Linked DNA regions of Homo sapiens. The protein of the gene in region 2 interacts with the protein of the main gene of each other region in a pairwise test. Each region holds a gene or a part of one and is shown on either strand. Other genes may lie near its edges.

Region 1 (7,572 bases), on a different chromosome or scaffold from region 2:
ACCTGAGGTCAGAAGTTCGAGATCAACCTGGCCAATATGGTGAAAGCTTGTCTGTACTAAAAATACAAAAAATTAGCCGGGTGTGGTGGTGGGTGCCTGTAATCCCAGCTACTCAGGAGGCTGAGGCAGGAGAATCCTTGAACCCTGGAGGGGGATCTTGCAGTGAGCTGAGATGGCACCATTGCACTCCAGCCTGGGCGACAGAGACAGACTCTGTCTCAAAAAAAAAAAAAAAAAAATCTCTGTGCACTTCCTCCTTGAAGCCATGTAGCCCAGCTGTATATCCATCTTACCCTTTGGAATATGAGATGCTTAAGGCTGGGACTATGTCCAATTCTCTCTGTACCCCAGTGCCCAGAGGAGTCCAGCACTTACTTATTGTCTGCGGCAGGCATTGAATTTTCCAAATATTCCTGGTCCCAGGTGCTCTTTCAACCTCTTGCTGCCTCCTGTCTGGAGGTGAGGTCTCTTTCCCCTCCCCTTGAGCCTGGGTGGTGCTCATGTGATTGCCTCAACAAATAGAATGTGGTGGAAATGGCACTGGATGGCTTCTGAGGCTAGGTTATAAAAGGGATGTAAGTTCCACCTGGCTCTCACTGGGAATGCTCACCCGTGGACTCCAGCCACCATATTGTGGGGAAGCCCAAGCCATGTGGAAAAGCCACTTGCAGGTGTTCTAGTCAATGGCCTCAGCTAAGATCTTAGCCAAGAGCCAATATTAAGTGGTAGACCTGTGGTATTAAGAACATTCATGCTGTTATACAATTATCACTACCATCCATCCGCAAAACTCTTTTCATCTTGTAAAACCAGAACTCTATGCCTATTAAATGATAAGTCTTCATTCCCCCTCCTACCAGCCCCTAACCACCATTCTACTTTCTTTTGTTGATTCTGGCCACTCTAGGTATCTCAGACAAGTGAAATCATACAGTGCTTTTTCTTTTTCTTTTTTTTTTTTTTTGAGACAGAGTCTCATTTTGTTGCCCAGGCTGGAGTGCAGTGGTGCGACCTCAGCTCACTGCAACCTCTGCCTCCCAGGTTCAAGCGATTCTCCTGCTTCAGCCTCCCGAGTAGCTGGGACTACAGGCACTCATCACCGCACCTGGCTACTGTTTGTAATTTTAATAGAGACGGGATTTCACCATGTTGGCCAGGCTGGTCTTGAACTCCTGACCTCAGGTGATTTTCCCACCTTGGCCTCCCAAAGTGCTGGGATTACAGGTGTGAGCCACCGCACCCGGCCTACAGTGCTTGTTCTTTTATGGCTGTTTTATTTCACTTAATGTTCTCAAGGACCATCCATGTTGTGGCATATGCCAGAATTTCCTTCCTTTTTAGGGCTGAATTGTATGTCTGGCCCACATTTTGCTGACCACTCATCCGTTGATGGACACGTGATGCTTTCACCTCTTGGCTTTTGTGAATGATGCTGCTACAAACGTGGGTGTTCACATGTCTCTTTGAGTTCCTGCTTTTGGTTATTTGGGGGATATACCCAGAAGTGGAATTGCTGGATCATATAGTAATTCTATGATGAGGTTTTTGAGGAACAGCCACGCTGTTTTCACAGGGTTCCAGTTTACTCACATTCTGGCCAACAGTTGTTATTTTCTGGATTTTTTTTTTAATCATAGGCATCCTAATGAGTGTGAGGTGGCAGACTCCCTCAGTCTCTAGGGCAGAGAAGAGAGAGCCTCTGAGAAGGGTCTGTGACTTTGAACACTAGAGCTCTGAGCAGGAACATTCCCGAGGGCTGCTTCTAGTCTCCTGAAGACCAGAGCTAACCACTGGGAATGGATTGTGGTGACTGAAGGGTGCCGAAGTCAGAACTCTCAGTGGCCTGGCACTGTGCCTCGAAGTGCCTCCCTACTGTGTTGATTAGTCTAAAAACATGTCAGCCTTTGGGTATGACCTTACTGGGGCCCCTCCAGACAGGGCATGGAGCAGAGGGCCCTCCTTTATGGGCTGGACTCACTAGTGAAGCTGCTTAACTGTGACTCACCTCCAAGGCTCAAGGTGATGCTAAGGTGCTAAACTGCTGGAACTCTTAGCTGTGCCTGTGTCTCCTTGGGCTCTGGGAGATTTTTTCTTTTAGCAGTATTTTATGGCGATATTGTCTAGGTAGAATAAAATGTACAGATCCTGGTTTTCTGTTTGAGTTTTGTTTTGTTTTGTTTTGAGACAGGGTCTTGCTCTGTCACTCAACCTGCAATGCAGTGGCACGATCATAGCTCACTGTGGCCTCAGCCTCCCAGGCTCAAGCAATACTCCTGCCTCAGCCTCCCTGTAGCTGGGACTACAGGCATGCACCACCATGCCTCACTAATTTTTTTGATTTTTAGTACACAGAAGGTCTTGCTATGCCGCCCAGGCTTGTCTCAAACTCCCGGACTCAAGCAATTCTCCTGCCTCAGTCTCCCAAAGTGCTGAATTACAGGTGTCAGCTGCTGCACCCAGCCTCAGCCTGTTGTTAATGGATGTAAACACCTGTGGGACCACCACCCAGAACCAGATCCAGAACATTTCCAGCCTCTCGAAGACTCCTTCGTGCCCCTCCCAGTCAGTGACTCCCAAGGGTAACGCCACTCTGGCCTGTTGTTCAACTTGACTCGAATGGAATTCTCACAGCATGTGTCTGTTTGGATCTGGCTTCTTCCGCTCAGTTGCAAGGCTCATTGACGTTTCCTGTGGCCTAGCTCCTTTTTATTGCTGAGGGCCACCCTGTGGTGTGAAAACCACAATTCATTTCTCCCTTCTTCTGTTGGTGACTATTTGCATTGTTACCAGCCTGGGGCTATGACGAGTAAAGCTTTTAAAAACAGACAAATATGTTTTCCTTTCTCTTGGGTAATTTTTCAGAAGTAGAAAAGCCAGCAACTTTGAAGTAGATATTTGACTATATTACAACTCACCAAGCAGTTTTTCTTTCTTTTTATTTTTTTTATTTTTTGAGACAGAGTCTTGCTCTGTTACCTAGGCTGGAGTGCAGTGGCGTGATGAGGGTTCACTGCAGCCTCGGCCTCCTGGGCTCAAGTGAGCCTCCCACCTCAGCCTCCCACATAGCTGGGACCACAGGTGTGCACCACCACACCTGGCTAATTTGCCTTTTAAATTATATGTAGAGACAGGGTCTTCCTATCTTGACCAGGCTGGTCTCAACTTCTTGGACTCAAGTGATCCTCCCGCTTCAGCCTCCCAAAGGGCTGGGATTACAGGCATGAGCCACCACGCCCTGCCCATTTTTCTAAGTTGGATTATTTTACACTCAAGTCTGCTATGAATGATAGTTCCAGTTGTTCCATATCCCAATCAATTGGTGATTGCTACAAATGACGTGACGTGATGAAAATATTCCTGGTGTTCGAGAGGATTGCAAAGAATTTCCCTTCTTTTCTCTCCTTTCTGCTCCCCTTGTACTGTCTACTCCTTAACTTGGTCAAATTCTACTTGATCCAGAACATAATGGGATGGTGAGTGCAGACGACACACACGGCCTCAGTCTATGGGAACATCTCAAAGGAGTTCGTCTGCAAATTCTAGTGCATCTAGGCAGAACACAGGAAGGAAGAGAGGTGCAGACTCACGTATGGCCTGGGGCACCTGCCATCCCCTCGAGCCTGTATGGTCCTTACCCGCCCATCCCCAGCTTGAGTTCTGGGCCTTCTCGCCAGCACATCGTTGGGACCTGGTCAACTTCAGGTAAGTTTATTTCATGGCTCCCTCTCCCCTCTGCAGCCTATCCTGTTATTCTCTGTTTCAGCCAATTATTTCCCCTAACTAGGTGCTGAAGCCAATTAAAGGCAGTTCATGCCATATGTTCCTTCCCACTCCCATGTCACTTGAAATGTTCTATTATGTCCAAGACTTCTCTCCCCATCCTAAAGCTCACAAAATAAGGATGGAGAAGAGAAGAAAGAGAGATTCACTGAGGGGGAGGATCAGAAGCTCCTGGGCACCCCATACTCTAGAATAAAAATCTTCATTATAGTGTTTTTCATGCAAAATATTCCCTTCTACATAATTATGTTTTAACATGAAGAATAGAAATTTAAAGAGGAGAAATACTTCTTGAAGATTCTGAGAATCTTCATATAGCTCAGGCTGCCACGAATTAGCTGTGTGACCTGGGGCATGTCCCTCAGACTCTGAGCCTCAGCTTCTCTATATGTAAAATGGGTTGAAGCCGCCCTTCCCCACAAGCACCCTGTGCACAGGCAATGCCCAGCCCCATTATTTTCTGGAACCAGTGGCCAAGCATGCTTAGGACACCCAGCCACATACTTCTGGGCAGTGTCATCTGGCAACTCACTGTCATGTCAGTGTGGTCAAGCATTGTAGACCTCTATGAACCAAATATGCTTCAGGCTGGGGTTGAGCACAGGAGAGGGAGGAGGGAAAGGTCACTGGGGCTGGGAGTGCCTACTTCCCTCTATGAGTGTCACCCCAGTTCACCCAACACCCTACCTTTCTCTCTCTGGACCCACTTCCTCTTGCTGCCGGCTCCTCCCCATTGAATAACAGCCAAGTTGCTTTGGTTTCTATTACTTTGTTAAGTCATTCCTTCTGCAAAGGACTGCCTGGCAGGTGTGAAAGGCAGCGGTGGCCACAGAGGCGGTGGAGATGGCCTTCAGCGGTTCCCAGGCTCCCTATCTGAGCCCAGTGAGTTCCAGGGCCGTGGGCACAGGGCTGCCTCAGCCAGGGGGACACAGTTATGGGGCTCTGAGGAAGCAACTCCTGGGTGGCAGGAGACAGGGGTGGGGGCATCCCAAAGAGAACACAAGCAGGGCAGAAATGTCAGTGGGGGTCGTCCTGGCACAGCTGTGCCATGCTGAGCTCACTCATGCCTGGAGGGATGCTCCTCCCATGAATCATGGGTTTGACAGTGTTGGCTGAGCTGTCGTGTCCTGTCCTGTGCGCTCAGGGGAAGAGGTGTAGAGTGGGATGGTTTGTGTAAAGAGGAAGCAAGCATGCTTCTGGGACAGTAAGGATGCTACCCGGCATGGTAGTTAAGGGTGCGTACTGTGGAGTTGGCCTCCCTGGGTCCAGCTATTTACTGGCTGGTGGTCTCTGGGCCTCAGTTTCCATATCTGTGAAGTGGGAATAATACTTGAGCCCCCCACTCCCAGGGTTGGGATATGGATTAAGGAAGTAGTGTATCTAGAGTGTTTGAACAGTGCCTGACACACTGTAGGTGCTTTGGGAGTGTTTCATGTTATTGGGAGTCTGGGGGCAGCAGGGAAGGCCTCCCGAGGAGGTGTCTGTGCTCTGAAGGGTGAGGCGGAGTTAACCAGGCATAGGCATGTCAGGGCATCTGTAGACGGACAGTCTCAGAGGTGACGGAGGCAGGGACTGTCCCTGCAGTGTGGGGTCAGAGGGCTGCAGGTGCCTTGCTGAAACTCTGTGAGGTTTATGAGTCCCCTTCATTCACGGAAAATCCAAGGTTCAGGGAGGCAAAGGCCAGTTGCCAAATGCCCCCAGATGGGAGTGGCAGCCCCAGGAGCCCAGGAGCCTTCAGGGGTGACTGTGTCCTGGGCTGGGTCCTGTCACAGGATCTCACCCTGCCTTGGCAAAGAGCTTCCCGAGGGGCTGGAGTGGGTGGGCTGATGGGCCCTTCCTGAGTGGGGAGACAGAATGGGGAGGGTGGGCAGAGGCAGGGTGCTGAGGGCAGGGAAGCTGCCAGGGGCCACCTCAGCAGAGGCCAGGGTCGGGCTTGGGTGCCCTCTGGTGATACTGAGTCCAGAATGAGGCTGCCTATGTTCTGGTCTGCAGAGCTCAGCTCTGCTTTCTAGACTCCAGAGAGGAAGAATGGAGAAAGGAGGCCTGTTTCCTCCTGGCTGTCACCAATGACCCCTCAGCCACCCTATGGAAGCCCCCAAGGTAGAACCTGCATAGAGGGAGTGGGGGAAGCTGGAACGGGCTGCCGGTGTTGGGCGAGCCTTAGAGTCAGCGTATGCCACCTTGAGCATGTCACCCCGTTTCTGGTTTTCTGCCAGAGAGGGGATCCCAGAGCTTCTTCCAGGTTCTGACATATTATTATTCTGGTAACTGGTTTTTACTTTCTAATCTTTGGATTCAGAAGGAAAATCCTCCTATGCACATCAGAGAGTTTGAGAGAGTTAAAGCGGGGCCTTGGAGCTCAGACAAGAAAGACGATCAGTGCAGCCCCCACAGGTGTCCAGAGCTCCCCTCTACCCTACGGGGGCTCCCCTGGGTTGGGACACTTGAGCCTCACTCGGTGACCCATCTGGCAGTCGGAGCCACGCTTTCTCCACATGCCGACAGTGGGGGAAGGTCACGCGGTTCACTGTCCTGCTGAGGAGGGCTGAGTGCCATGAGGGCCTGGCTTGGAAACCTCACTCCCACTTCTTGTCTGGCCTCATCTAGCCCAGCCTCTTTGGAGGGCTGGGGGGAAGCTGGAACCACCTGCTGTGTGGCCCAGGAAGCACTGCGAGAGCCAGGAATAAGGACGTTCCGAGCTTCCTCATGAGAGGAAGCCTGTGTGGTGGTTAGAAGCGTGGGTGCTGGGGTTCAAATCCCAGCTCTGTTGCCGACCAGCTGTGTAGCTTTGGGCAAGTGACTGAACTTTTCTGTGCCTCAGTTTCCTCATCTGTAAAAGTGGCCGGGGTTGCTGTGAGGATAAATGTTCCCGGTCACCCCCAGAGCCCTCATGGACACACATGGATCCAAATGCCACAGCAGCCTTAGCTGGCCAACTTAAAACAACACATTTGTGCTTACAGTGTTGGAGGTCAGAAGGCTAAAATCAAAGTGTCATGAAAGGTGGCCAGCAGGACCGTGGAGCCTCTGAGGCAACAGGGCACTTTGGCTAAGGGCCACGTACTGGCTCCAGCTGGCAGGCAGTCTCGGCCAGCCAGGCTGAGCTCCCTACTCCTGGGGCCAGGCCTTGGTGTCCTCTGGTGATGCTGAGTCCAGAATGAGGCTGCCCACATTCTGGTCCGCAGGGCTCAGCTCTGCTTTGACTTCCAGGTAGGAAGAAGAGGGAAAGTCCCCGGTCTCTGGGCACAACCAGGAACAGAGAGCAAGTTCTGACTCAGCAGAGGGATTGATTTGTTCCATGCAAAGAGCTGCACTGTCAAGGCCGACATGGGCCAGAGGCTCAGCACATGGCATCGCACCCCGTCCTCTCAGAACGCTGCCAGCCAGGGACTCAGCACATGGCATTCCACCCAGTCCTCTCCAGAATGCTGCCAGCCAGGGACTCAGCACACAGCATTGCACCCAGTCCTCTCCAGAACACTGTCGGGTGGTGTTACTGCCCTGCCATTCAGAGGAGGGAAGTGGGGCACAGGCAGGTCAAGTGACTTGGCCAGTGTCAGAATTGCTAGTGTACAGAGCTGGGAGGCGAGCCCAGGCCCATGGGACCACAAATCCAACACAAAAATCCATCCTCCTGCACCCTACGGAGCAAAAGTAGGTCCAGTTGTTTTCCTGGGTTTCCTGGACACACGGATCTAAATTCCACAGCAGCCTTGGCTGGCCAATCTTAAAACAACAAATTTGCTTTCTTAATGATTCTGGAGGGCAGATGTTAAAATCATCGTGTGAGCA
Region 2 (7,025 bases):
AGGGAGTTATTGACTCAGCTCTGTGGGCTGAAGCAGTATTTTGGGCGGGGGAGGAATTTCCTACAGTGCCATCAGGCAGTGGAATGGGAAATAGAGAGGGGGCGCTGGTGACAGTGACATTGGTGGTGATGGCGGCTCTCATGTGTCGTGGTAGGGCAAGAGGAAGGTTGAGGGTCAGTAGCCTAGATTAGCAGGGGATTTTCTGTCACATGGAGGCCCGGAAGGGGGCTTTCCAAACTTTGAGATCTGAGATTGAAATTGGAAGAGGGGTGTTCAGGGCCAAATCCTCAATTAATGAAGATACTGACTGGGAGCACAACTGAGTTGGTGTCGGGAGGGTGAAAATCTCGGAGGCAACTTTGGGATTCGGTAAGGCAGGCCACTCTGCAAAGAACACAGCAGCTGATGGAGCTGGGTAGGCAGGGCCAGGCATTGCTTGTTGTCCCTTTTCTGTTTTTCTTTCCCGTTTTTCTCCCTTTCTTTTCCCTAAATGTCTTTCCCTCTTGTGCAGTCACTTGGGTCTCTTTAAATTTTATTAACGGGTTTTTAATTTCTTTATTTCTTTTACTCTCTTTTAATTGAACACACTAAAAAACAAAATTATAATTTGTATATGCTGTTTTATTTAACAACTTTTTGTTTCCATTGATTTTCAAAATATAAATTGAACATTTTGTATGTCACTTTCTAAGAAAAGCTGTGCTTGTAGACTCCTTTATCAACATGTGCCCATCAGATGTCTTCAGTGAGCCAGGTGCCTTCCACAGAAGAAAGATTTCCACTCTTTATAGAAATAGATATTGATTTGTCTTCTCACAGAATTGATATTTTATTGTGTGGTTTATAAAATGATATGACAATTATGAACCTTTCTGATCAGTGCTGAAGCATCTAGATTTAAGAAAACTGCATTTCTGCTTTTGAAAATTTAAACATGGTGACACAACCAGCCAGCCCACGGAAGAGTGGTAGACTCAAAGGACAGAGGAGGGAGACACACAGAGAGCTGCGCATTGGAGAGAAGAGAAGCGACAGGGTGTCCAGCTGCTTACTAATGGGGCTGTTTCTTAAAACACATATTTTAAACATGTTTCACCTTATGTTTATATAAGTAATTGATGGTCATTTTGAAAAAAACTCAAAAATACAAATGAGCTTTTAAAAAAAGCCATAATCTGCAACTCAAAGGGAATCAACTATTGGCATTTTGGCATACATATTTCCAAACTTGAATGTAGTATGTATAAATAGGCTTTAAACAAAGATGGGATCATGTTATTCATGATCAGTATCTAAAACCTGCTCCTCTCATTAATATAAGCATTTCTTCTAATTCAGTTCATACACATCATCTTTTAATGGAAACATAGTATTCCGTTTTATGGATGTACCATAATTGATCTTACTAGTCTCCTCTTTATGATTCTACAATTTGGTTACTATCCACATTGCTACAGTGAACATTCATATAGCACTTGCCTGCTTATGTCTGAAAATAAGCTGGTTGGTTCCAAGAACATGAACATTTCCTGCCAACAACGTAAGGTTTCTGCTGTCTGTAGCCATGTTCTTTAGCGTGCCTGTGCTGTTTCAGAGTGCCCCCATGCTGCCATTTTTCCCATACCTCAGACAGAACTGGGCATTGCCTTTATCCTTCTCTTTCTTTCTACCAATCTGGCAATGAAAAATGTTATATCATTTTAATTACTTGGAAAAAATGTTATCTCATCAAAATATGTTTTCTTATCCTTGCGTTTGAAAATAATGGCTGAGAATTTTTAAGTATTTGCTCTTTGTTGTGGGAGTTCACTTTTTCTTGTTATCTAAGAGTAACTATGAGTGTTTGGGATAAAAGGTATTTATTGTCATGTTATAAATATTTAAAACAGATTTTAATATAAAATATTACTTATAATAAATTCTCTTGATTCATAAACATACTTAGCTCTGTAAGATAATCTGGTGTCTTAAAATTCAGTTTACTCTTATAAATAAGAGGATCACAGCAGATTTTCAGTATTAATATTTCATCAGTGTGAGCTTAGTGAACGGGGTGCTGATTCTTGTTCTTGCCAAGAATAAAAACCACCTTATTTAGAACTAATTCTTTTTTTGCTTTACATTAGTTCATTACTGTTATAAACCTCACTCATTTTTTGTATGTGTTCGGTAATATTTTTCTTGTATGAATTCTAATAATTAAACTGTTTTTCCCTTAGCTTGACCAAGAATGTTCCAATATTTGTTTGCACTATGGCCTACCCCACTGTGCCTTGCCCTCTCCATGTATTTGAGCCAAGATACAGATTGATGATTCGAAGAAGTATACAGACTGGAACCAAACAGTTTGGCATGTGTGTCAGTGATACACAAAATAGGTATGCTTTTTGTGAACCTAAATATTTGTATTTATGTTAGACCTCTCAATATGGATGAGAACTTGCATGTTTATGTTTCAACTTTGTTACTAATCAAGGTTTTCTTTTAGTTTTGCAGATTATGGTTGTATGTTACAAATTAGAAACGTGCATTTCTTACCGGACGGAAGGTCTGTGGTTGATACAGTTGGAGGAAAGCGGTTTAGGGTTTTAAAAAGAGGAATGAAAGATGGATATTGCACTGCCGACATTGAATATCTGGAAGATGTTAAGGTATTTTAAAATGTGCTTTGCCAGCATACTTTCGTATATCCTGTTCCAGGGATTGGTACAGGCATGCAGGCTATTTTCTAGGTGCATGAACCAGTTCTTATCAGACAGCCTTACCACTGTGATGAGAATGTGCTCCAAGTTACCTTTTTCGTATCTTGCTCTGAAACTGTTGCACATTCTAAGAGAACTTGGAAGACTAGAACATAGATTCTCTTTATTTCTGCAGGCTTAACAACCAGCCCAGTGCCTAGAATGTATGTGTATATGTACACATGTGCATGTGTGTATACACGTGATAGGTACTTAACAATAGTGGTTGAATAAGTTGAACTTCCAACCCATCTAAGTTTTGAAAGGTTTACATTTCTGCCCTGTTTTATTGAATGTATTAGTAGTTGAAGCCGATGGAATTAGTAGATTGAAATTTGATGTAAATGTAAACACATCAAATCTTATAAGAATTGTTTTATATATTAAGATTGTTCTTGTGCCTAAGATAACCTTAATGATAAAATAGAGTTGAATGCTGTGTGAAGACCCTGGGGCAGACATAGAAAGCACTGCCAGTGTACATGTTGGTGATATCTTAACAGGGTAGGGTTTTTGTGATGTCTTTCTAGAATAGGGTTAATGTGGCCCTTTTGATGTTTGCAATACCCAGTTTACCTACTGCAGTTAGTTTAGGAACCGGAAAAGTGACTTATGATGCTACAAATACCAAATTGAAGGCAATTTCTTTTGGAAAGGCATTATAAAAACATAGATCTTATCCCTTCTCTTATTCATTGATCTGTTTAGGCCCTTCATTTCGTCAGCATTTATTGGATATTGGCATTAGGTATTTTCACAAACATTAACTCATAGAATTTTCACAACTCTATGAAATAGTAGATGAGGAAAGTACAATTCAGAGGTGTTAATTAATTTGCCTGAGAGCCTATAGATAATGTAACAAAAATGATTAAAGCAAACTGTCTGACTCAGACTTTGAGCTTTATCACTATGCCATTTGGCTCTCTGTTGATAAACCTGATTAGTCTGACGTTGGCAGTCCTATCTTATTATAAAAATGCTATGGGGGTACTTTGTCTTGTGCAGTTGGCCGAAAGTATTGTGTGAGTTGAAATTTTGAGTTGATTGATAGAATCTGTGCCTTAGGCATACTTGGTTAATGGAATCACTTGCTAAAGGTTCTTCTTTGTAAAGTTAATAACCATATTTCAGTTTTGTGTAAATTTATGTCTTCACTTATTGGATTTGATGACAAAATCACTTGAGTATATGGCTAAATTACATGACTATATGTATTAATACTTACAAACATGTAGGCAATAGAATCACATTCTAAAAGTATTACAGATATGATATTTATAAACGAGTCCTCTTTGGTCCTCGGAATGTCTAGTAATCTTTTCTCATCATGTCTTCATCTATATAATGATTTTCTTGTCCATTCTGGAAAACCTTCTCAAATTTGTTTTATATGGCAAATTTTCCTCTTCTTATAATAATTCTGTTTTCTGTGACTTCTAATGAAATTTTAAGTTCTGTTAAAATTATCACAGTAAAGTTCCTTGACTTTAAAAGCTTGCTTTTAAAATGGAGCTGGCCAAAAAGCAGGCAGAGACTTTAAAAGCGTCTCTGCCTGCTTTTTGGCCAGCTCCGTTTTTCATCACTGACGCTTATAATTGTTATCATTCCTTGTTTACCAGAGCCTGTCATTTGTTTTCTTGAATTTTGTGAGGGTGCAGAGCAGATGCTTTAAAAAAAAAAAAAAAAAAGATTTAACAAGGCATAAGTTTGTTTCTTGCTCCTATCAATGTATGTTAGCAGGGGCCTGAATCATGTATAGTCATTTCAGGACCAAAATTCTTCAATTGTGTGGCTCCTCTACCTTTTTTAAAAGTTTATTTTTATTGTGGTAAAATATACATAGAATTTACCATTTTAACCATCTTTGAGTGCACACAGTGGCATTAAGTACATTCACATTGTTATGCAAAAAACAGATGCTCTTTAAACTTTAGTTTTCATTTCAAATCTTTCAAAAGTAAAAAGTTTGCTTTTTTGTCTCTGGTGTGCTGTAGTCTTATTTTTATATTTCGAAATGTTTTCAGAGTCCCTTTGTTGTTTTTAAATGAGTCATCCTTGAAGTATGAAAGGCTGAGTCAGGCCTGGTATTTTTTCAGATGAGTTTGTGCATATGAGACAGAGCACGACCTGGCAAGTAGCAAGTGGGATGTAAGTGTGCATTAAAGAAATCAGTATAAGATGGATGAGTTAAACTTAGATCTTCCCACCTGTGTTCTCTGAGACTACTCTTCTATCTCAGGCTGGAAGCCTGATGCAATTAATTTTACATTTGCAGTTTGGTGACCCAGTAGTCTAAAGAATACACTGAGGGGTTCCAGAGGTAGCCATAGCCTTGGGCCTTGCCAGCAGAAGCTCATCATTGTGTAATTGACTCTCTGACATACTGGCTTTATATGCTAACTTATTTGTTGTAGCTTTTTGTTTGTTTTTGTGTTTTGACCCAGTTCCCTAGTAAAAGATGTAACTGTGCCTGGACTCCTCCTGTTACTACTTTCTGTCATGTCATCTACACCCTAACTACTTATCTTTTCTTTTTTTGTAGCAACTATCATCCACTTTTTTGTTCCACTGCTTTCAAAAACCATTGATCCATAAAGACAAATGGAATTCCAAATTAGACCTCTGAACCAGAACTCACTCTCAATCTTACTCTTCCCACTTGAGGGCTGTTGTAGGGTTCTGCAATATTGCACTGCTAAGTCAGCAAGGTTAGGCATAGGTCAGGCCTTGTTGTCTTTCTTTAGTCTGGTCAGCCCTATATGAGACAGAAATGTGTATTAAAGCATAGGAATAATACTCTCTGGGACGTCAGCACTGAAACAGGTATTGCCCTGTTCTTCTGATCCCTTTTTCCATTTGTGTCGGTTGGCATATGGCATATGGACGGGGGATTAGACACAGAAGTCTTACTGACTATTGTATTTCTAGGTTGAGAATGAAGATGAGATTAAGAATCTCAGAGAGCTTCATGATTTGGTTTACTCTCAAGCCTGCAGCTGGTTTCAGAATTTAAGAGACAGATTTCGAAGCCAAATTCTTCAGCATTTCGGATCAATGCCCGAGAGGGAGGAAAACCTTCAGGTATGGTGGCTTTTCTGTTCTTCCAAAAGTCACTTTTTTATAAACCCAAATTTGCACACTTCTACATTTGTTTTCTCATTGTCCTTTCTGCACTACTTTTTCTTTGACTGTCCCCTCCCCCGCACCAGCCCCACCTCATCTTTGCAATCATGAGTTCTCTAGAGCAGTGGTCTCCACTACATTCCGTACAGATAGAGGCTGGAAATACGTGTCAGCTGAGATGCCTGTAGGAGAGAGTGCCAGAAAGGGAGCAAGTCCTTAAGAGGATTTTTAGGAGTGGGTAAGGAATTAAAAACGGGATGTTACTATCTAGAAACTGTGACTGTGGGACAACTAACCATGCCTTTGAGCCCATCGCCTGTTGCTGTTATTCTTTGACAGCAGAGAGACTTACCATTTTCTATACATTTGAAACATCTTTTCTCACCTTTCTTTGTATCTCCCAACATTTGACCCAACCACTTCAATTCATTTTTGTCTCTTCATGTTTAATACCTCGCTTCTCATGAAACTATTATTCTTTTAGTCTTGCAGGTACTTAGGGTTTACACTTAAGCTTAGTCTAATGAATGTGTATCTGGCACTTTCTGTGCAAGCAAAACTGCAGGAGGCATAAAAGAAGGGTCTGGCTCCTGGAAAATCTGATCATAGACTTACTAAAGCACTACGTTTTAGGCATCGTAGCATTTTGAATTGAACTAAATGTTTTTGATCAGAAGGTGATAGATTTTACAAAGGAATGGCTGTCAGTAAATATGTGAAGATGGAGAGATAATAGATCTCATTGTAATGCACACTGCCTCATTCCCGTTTTCAAGGGTTGGTCTACATTTGTCTGAATCCCAATTGAATCCTTCACCTGAACTTGAAACACCAACATTAGGCCATCTCCAAATTTAGTATTCATTCTGTTTAGCATATTATCAGTTGCCATCTATTTGTTTTAACTGATTACTTGAATCTGATTAAACATCACAGAAATGGGCTTTGATAAGAACAATATTGAATAAGAAATTTTAAATAACAAAACAGCTTATAGAAAAATTCAGCATAACTTTTCCATCACCTTCACCACCCTTGCCTTTTATTATCCTGTCCTGTATCACTGCTTTCTGTTAGCAGTGTTGTGTGAGTTAGGATTTGGGCAGGAAAGCAAAAGCAACCACCCGTCATTTTCCCAGAATGAAGGGTTTGACGTAG
Region 3 (7,025 bases), on a different chromosome or scaffold from region 2:
GAGGGAGAGGCTGGCTTAGGCCTGGGAATGGGTATAGCCAGTACTCCAGGCTCCCAGCAGCACAGGTGCACCTTACAAGGAGAGAGGAAGGAGGAGGACCCTGGTGTCCAGGTGTGACTGCAAACAGGCCTCAAGGCAGGGTAGAGGGAGCCATGGGGCTCTCTTAGTGCGTGTAGCTCTTCTGGCTGGAGGATGTGGTGGAGACAAACTTGACGCTAGAACCACTGCCCCCTAAGCCCCGGTTGCTGGTGGCACTGAATCCAGAACCTCCCAGGCCTGCACCCAGGCTATGCCCACCACTGGTGGTGAAGGAGTAGCCGCTGCCCCCACCGAGGCCCAGGTTTCCACCTCCAATGCTGCTGCCGCTTCCATAGCCACTGGAAAGAGTAGAGGTGACCACAGCTGCCGGGAAGAGAGGAGGTGTGGTCAGATCAAGTGCAAGCGAGAAGACAGCTGGGAGTGTGAGGGCCTGTGCCCTGGAGTCCTTGGGTGGGGAGGGGGTGGTCTCGTCAGCCAGCAGTTTGCCTCCTTCCAATGTCCCCTGCTTAGTGAGATCACTGCCTGTGTTCCTGAGCTGCAGCTCCAGGCAGCCTCTTAGGCTGGAATGGCTTCCTCCTCCCCTTCCAGAACCTACTGGAGCCCTCTCCTCCTGGAAGCAGCTCCAGTCCACCTGCTTTCCCTTTGATCCTCCTGCTGTGCCGTCTGGGTCTGTCTCCCTGTCTGAGCCTGACTCCAGAGTTTCTCTTCCTTCTGGATGCTTATGGGGGGAGGGGCACACTCCTCTTCCCTCAGCGTCTCCCAGCCCCACACTCAGAATCCCAGGGTGGAGGCTGGAATATTCTTGATGGATCAAGTGACAGATTAACCTGTTGGCCAGTGAACTCTGCCCCCGTTCTCCTCCCAACCTATTCTTCTCCTAATTTATAACTCATCCCCTTACACATTCTAGCACCCTACTTTGGGTCCTGCCGAAGGAAAATCAAATTTTAAAAAAATAGACTCCGTTATAGGATGAATTGTGTCCTTCAAAAACCTATGGTGAAGTGTTAACACCAGTATCCGTGAATGCAACCTTATTTGGAAATGGGATCGTTGCAGGTATAACCAAGTTAAGATAAAGTCTGTAGGGTGGGCCCTGATCTAACATGACTGGTGTCCATACAGAAAGAAGGAAGACATTCATCTGAAGCCACAGACACACAGGGACACGGTCATACAATCACAGAAACAGAGAGTGGAGGGATGCAGCCACAAGCCAAGGAACACCGAGGATGGATGGCCACCGCCAGAGCTAGGAGGAGGCTGGAGGGGGGCTGGGCTGCCCATGCTGCCTCCGTGTTCCAGAACACTATCTGGTTTGGAGAGGGGATAGTGCCACCCTGCATGATATACAGAGCAGGAGGCTGGTCCAGGCTCCAAGTTTCAGAGGGACCAGGGCCCTGCTAACCCTTAATTTCAGCCTCCGGAACTGTGAGACAAGACATTTCTGTTGCTTTAAACCACCTGACTGGTGGTACTTTTTGCAACAGCCCTGGAAAACTAATACAGACAATTAGGTGTTTTCAAGAGAAAAGGAGCTTCAAGGTTATGCTTGAAGGCCTGTCCCCAAAATTAGCTTTGAGGGTCTCTGGCACCACTAGACAAAGACATCAGGGAGGAAGGACACCTGGGTGGTTCAGAGGGCTCTGCCTTCTAGAATCATTGGCTAATATAATGAATTGCCCTTATGAATGCCCATCAAGAAAACCAAACTCAAACTCACTTGTAGAGGGTGAGTTGTAAGAGTCATTTCTGTTGCCCTTGTGATGCCAGCACTGAGCTCTGCGAATGACCACTTCTTCTCTCACCAGCACAGGGCCATGCCAGCTTGTTAATACCTCTCCTGTTTTAGAGCTACTGTAGCCAACTGCCATATTTTATGCTGCCCTTACTGCCTTGAAAACCCTTGGCATCCTTCTGCAGTTATACTCGGCAGAGTTGAGCCAAGCAGTGGAGCTTCTTCTCAAACTGTTTAGGAGAGAAGCTGCCTAGTTGGCAATGCTCTTGTCCACAGCATGAAGGCTCCCTTCAAAGGTCCAAGCCAGACCAGGAATTTTCATAAATCCCGTCTACATCAAGTGCTCACCTCTGTGCTAGGCTTGCAGCCCCAACAAAAAGGCAGGGAATTCTGGGAGGTAGGAGATGTGGCCAGGATCTTTTAAACCCACTCAGAACAATGACATCAAACCTCTCATCACCCCTTCTGTGACACCCTCACTCTCAAAGAGGAAAGAACTGTGACATTAAAGACTCCTAATATGGCTTGCTTTTTAAGGGACCCAAAACCTCAAACCTTCTCCAAATGAACGCTGTCTGTGAGATCCCGTCTAACCCGTCATATCTTCACCCTCTGGCAAGCCCACCACATCCCCATCCCCTCTACCACACACACTCCAAATGGCCCAAGAAGTATGTCATACTCACAAATGTTAACTGGAGAAACTCCCTCTCCACTCAACCTGATTGGGAAGAGCAGGGAGAAGGAAGGTTACCAATGTGGCCAGCAGCTTAAGGGCCTTTGCAATGACACTTTTGTAATTGTTGACAAAGCATTTAAACATACTTTATTATTTTTATTGCAGAAGTAATGCAGGTTGAAATTATTTGAGAACTAGTAGTATTAAAGATAATATTAATAATCTAATGAATAAAATAAGGTGGAGTTTGAGGTTCACAGGAGCAAAATCTATAATCTCAGAAATACAATTTTTGGTTTAAACTAGTTAGATGCCTTAAGGAAATTAAAAGTAATCATATACTGGCATCAACTGGAAAGAAGGGCCTGTCCTATAATAAGATTTGTCTCTCAACAAGGGACCATTGTCATGCACTGAGCCAGGGCTGAGCTTATTGTATATAGGTGTGGAGAGGCGTCTGAGTCATAAAAATAACAATAGTAATATCAGTTTATTATTATCTTAGCAACCAAGTAACTTTGCTTTAGCATCTTCAGGACAGAACTGGCATTCATTCATAAACACATACTGAGAAACTTAACAAGAGGTAACAGCTGTTGATTACCTGTTACTTATATCACACCACTTAGTTCTCTCAACAACCCCATGAGGTAGGTATTATTTGCTCACTTTTATAGAGGGAGAAATGGAAGCTCAGACAAGTTAACTAACTTGCCCATAGTCGCAAAGCTGGACTTGAAGACAGATTCATCTGACACCAAAGCCTATGTCTTTGGCCATGAAACTGAATGATAGCTAACATTTATCGAACACGCTGTGTACCATGCATTGTTCTAAGAGCTTTGTGTGTATTCCCTTATTTTAACCCTTTTAATAATGTGAGAGTTTAGAACTATTGTTATTCACATTTTATTGGATGAGAACACTGAGAGGTGGAGAGGTTAAGTATCTGCTCTTGGCTACACAGCTCCTAACTGGCAGAGCACAAAGCTCCCATGAAGCTTTGCGGATCATGTAATCTGACCTTTTCATTTTATCATTGAAGAAATTGAGGGCCAGAGAAGGGAGACTGACTTTCCCAAGGTTATGTAGCTACTTAGTGTTAGATCTGTAAGCCCAAATCCTAGGACTGTTTGTTCTCAGCCCATGGCCTTTTAGACCACATTTCGAGAGCTGCCATGTAACCAAATGTCTCCTTTGGTAGAATTCAGTTACTTAGACCTGATCAGGTTTTAGGTTTCTATGGGGATGCTAACTGTAGTTGCACCTCAAATGATTTACTAGCCTGGAAGGAAATTAAAATTATTTTTTTGCCATAGCCCAATTCTGAACTGCATTTTCTTCCAGGAGAAGAAGGGGCTGCAACAGCCCGAGCCCCTAGGAATGCCCAGGAAGCTGAGGTGAGCTCAACTTGCTTTGAGGATGAAGTTGGTGCATCTGCCTCACCTGCACTCCTCGCCTTCCAGCAGCTTGCGGTAGGTGGCGATCTCCACGTCCAGGGCCAGCTTGATGTTCATCAGCTCCTGGTACTCACGCAGGAGCCGAGCCATGTCCTGCTTGGCCTTCTGCAGGGCCTCCTCAAGGTCCACCAGCTTGGCCCGTGCATCCTTGAGAGCCAGTTCTCCCCGCTGCTCTGCATCAGCAATGGCCGTTTGCAAGCTGGAACACTGTAAGGACAGGAGGAAGCCATGAGTCCTGCTGACAGCCCATGGAGGTGTGGTGCTTCTTGGGGAGGAGTTCTTAAAGATGGCAGAAAGGCCCAGAAGAAATGAGCATTTGAGGAGCTCTTGGCCCTGCCAAATCTTTACCTGCTTCTTGACGCTGTCAATCTCAGCTCTCAGCCTCTGGATCATGCGGTTCATTTCAGAGATCTCTTGTTTGGTGTTTCGAAGGTCATCCCCATGTCTGCCTGCGGTGACCTGCAGCTCCTCGTACTGAGAGAACCAGAGCAAACCCAGTCACTGAGTCAAATGCCTGGCCCAGGCACTCGCTGTGCACACAGACCCACCCTGGGTGCCACAAGCAGGCTCATTCATTCCTGGTCATTCACTCATTCCCCCTGAAGCTTACAGTTTATTGGGGGACATAGACATTAACTGAATTAGCATATTATCAAATGTATAGTTCCACACTAAGATAAGTGCCCTTAGGAAATGAACAGGGTCCTGGGAGAGTGTAATGAAGGAATCTGACCTAGATTTGGAAGTGGGAAGTGGTGGTCAGAGAAGTCTCTCCAGAGATGGAGATGCTTGAACTGTGGTCTGAAGGATGAGAAGGAGGGACCTAAGTGACCAGTTGTGGGGGAGAACATTCCAGACAAAGGAAACAGCCTGCATGAAGACTCTGGGTCAGGGAAGGAACATGGTGAGTTCTAGGAGTGAGACGGTGATTTGATCAAGGTCCCTGGGTAGTTCCTGGTCACAGAGCGTGCATCCAGACCAACTGTGCCCATGAATTTTGGTAGCCCTCCAAACACCAGTGCTGGGGAAACAGGGAGGAGATATGGGGGAATGGTGTGGGATGGTGCAGAGGCTGTGGAAGGCACAATTTTGAAGACTTTGTAAAAGTATTCCCAATCTCAGGTAGTTCTCAATCTAATGGTGCATATCCAGGACATGTGAATTTAAGAGCAATAATTACACCCTGTCTCCTCCAGCAGACTGAAGTGAAACCTACACCTTTCCCTGACAAAAGGAGATCCCCTGCCAGAGTCAAGATCTGTGGGGTTCTTGAAAGTGCTGAATAGCTCAGGTTCCCGCTTCTAGGTATACATGATTAAATGGAGCAACAACCCAACAACATGAGGAATCGTTTGCTATCGATTTCAACCACTTCACCTTGGGGTTAAGTGCATCATGTTTCCTTTCACCGTCAAGGCGCTGCCTCTGCCCTGTGGAACCCTGGTCCCTGCTACCCACCTTCCTTTCCACCACACTCCTGACCAGAAGGGATGAGGCAACGTATGGAGCAGGGAAAGAGTTGGAACCTGCTCGTAGGTGAGAAGCTGCCCCAAGAGGGGTCTGGATTTGACAGGGAGCTGGTATCATGGGTCAATTGTACCCCGCAAAGCCAAACTTCTTTGCGGCTGTCTGAGCTCTGGGCAGTAGCTGTTTGTGTTTATCCCAGCCTTCCTCTTCCTGACATAAACTCCCTTGCTTGTTCTTGCCTGCCAGCTCCTTGTTCAGCCTTAAACCTCTCCCCACTCCTCAGCAATCTTTTGTCCCTCATGGCTTCCCAACTGTACAAAGCCCCCATGTCTTCCTGGAAGCTTTTTATTCATGCTATCTTTTCCCTTCCATGATTGTCCATTCACTTCATGGCCTCCCAGAGCTTGGGTTCTCTGTTTGCAGTTTATTTATTTGCAACCCTGTAACCCTGATTGGCATACAGCAGGAGCTCAGAAAATATATAGAGAATAAATAAGCCTTTTAGAAACTGCTTCATGACTGTGTCTCGGTTGTCCTGGTGTCTCACCCTGCTCCCACCCAGATCTTGAGGAATGTGGGGCCAGTGGATGTCCTGAGCTCCCAGCATTGGGCTGACCATGTATTAGTGTGTCTGGTTCGGTTTCCACATGCATTTCAAGCTAAGTTGTCATAGCATCAAAGACATGCCTGCTAAGTTGAAATAAACGAATGTGCTCACACGTTTCCTGAGGCTGAGTTAAGTGATAATGTGGAGCCTCAGAGAACACTAACCCTGGAACCTCTCATGGAGGTGTCCATGCTCACCTTGGTCTGGTACCAGGACTCAGCCTCGGCCCGGCTGCGGTTGGCAATGTCCTCGTATTGTGCTTTGACCTCGGCGATGATACTATCCAGGTCCAGGTTGCGGTTGTTGTCCATGGACAGCACCACGGATGTGTCACCGACCTGGGTCTGCAACTGGGACAGCTCCTGCAGGGCAGTAAACTCAGCATCACCAAGGCATAAGATGAAGAATCTTAAATCTTCGTGGTTAACTACCCATCTAGGTCAGGAATCCTTTCCTTGGTATTCCTGGCAGATTCTCCCAGCTATTCCCTAGGTATTCCCATTCATCCCAAAAGATCAGTGTGGTGAAAATCTTTCCCAGCCTTACTTCTCAAGGCTCCCATCTGTGTGCTTTCCCCAGGCATGAGGGTGGGTAAGCATCCTCTGAATTGGAATTACATAGATTTGAATGTGACACGTGTCTGTTCAGTATGCCAACATAAACGGCTTCTTTAAGAGCATTGGGGACATCTGGGACACTGCTTCCCCCTGCACAGTGTGACTCCATCACTTTCTACCTCTCTCTCCCTTTCCACAGACCCAGGTCTCTGCCTTTGGAGGGGTAGCGCCCAGAATGAGGCATCTTCAAAGGGTAGGAAGCCCCCTGACCAATGAGCTGAGGGACAGCTTGCCTTTTTTTTTTTTTAATACTTTTCAGGGAAGGGGAAGGGAGCAGGTATGTGTTGATTCCTTGGGAAATTACCCAGTGTCCTAGAATTTGGGAATCAGTACTCTCTCCTTGTTAGATGTTGTCCTGCCATGGGATAAGGGAGTTCGGGGGAGAAGCATCAGAGCTGGGGTAGTTTAGTATGACAAG

The links. The genes of interacting proteins can lie anywhere in the genome.
Region 1: the proteins of LONRF1 (region 2) and LGALS9B interact in binary tests that used the Homo sapiens proteins (3 or more experiments, as listed by UniProt).
Region 3: the proteins of LONRF1 (region 2) and KRT75 interact in binary tests that used the Homo sapiens proteins (3 or more experiments, as listed by UniProt).

The regions. Positions count from the first base shown.
Region 1 is NC_000017.11:20,464,522-20,472,093, reverse strand, and holds the start of LGALS9B (galectin-9B), read left to right. Parts: upstream 1-4,554; 5' UTR 4,555-4,623; coding exon 4,624-4,662; intron 4,663-7,572.
Region 2 is NC_000008.11:12,724,527-12,731,551, reverse strand, and holds part of LONRF1 (LON peptidase N-terminal domain and RING finger protein 1), read left to right. Parts: intron 1-2,219; coding exon 2,220-2,378; intron 2,379-2,488; coding exon 2,489-2,651; intron 2,652-4,247; exon of another isoform or gene 4,248-4,320; intron 4,321-5,672; coding exon 5,673-5,825; intron 5,826-7,025.
Region 3 is NC_000012.12:52,424,354-52,431,378, forward strand, and holds part of KRT75 (keratin, type II cytoskeletal 75), read right to left. Parts: intron 6,353-7,025; coding exon 6,188-6,352; intron 4,391-6,187; coding exon 4,265-4,390; intron 4,124-4,264; coding exon 3,903-4,123; intron 2,499-3,902; coding exon 2,464-2,498; intron 403-2,463; coding exon 164-402; 3' UTR 1-163.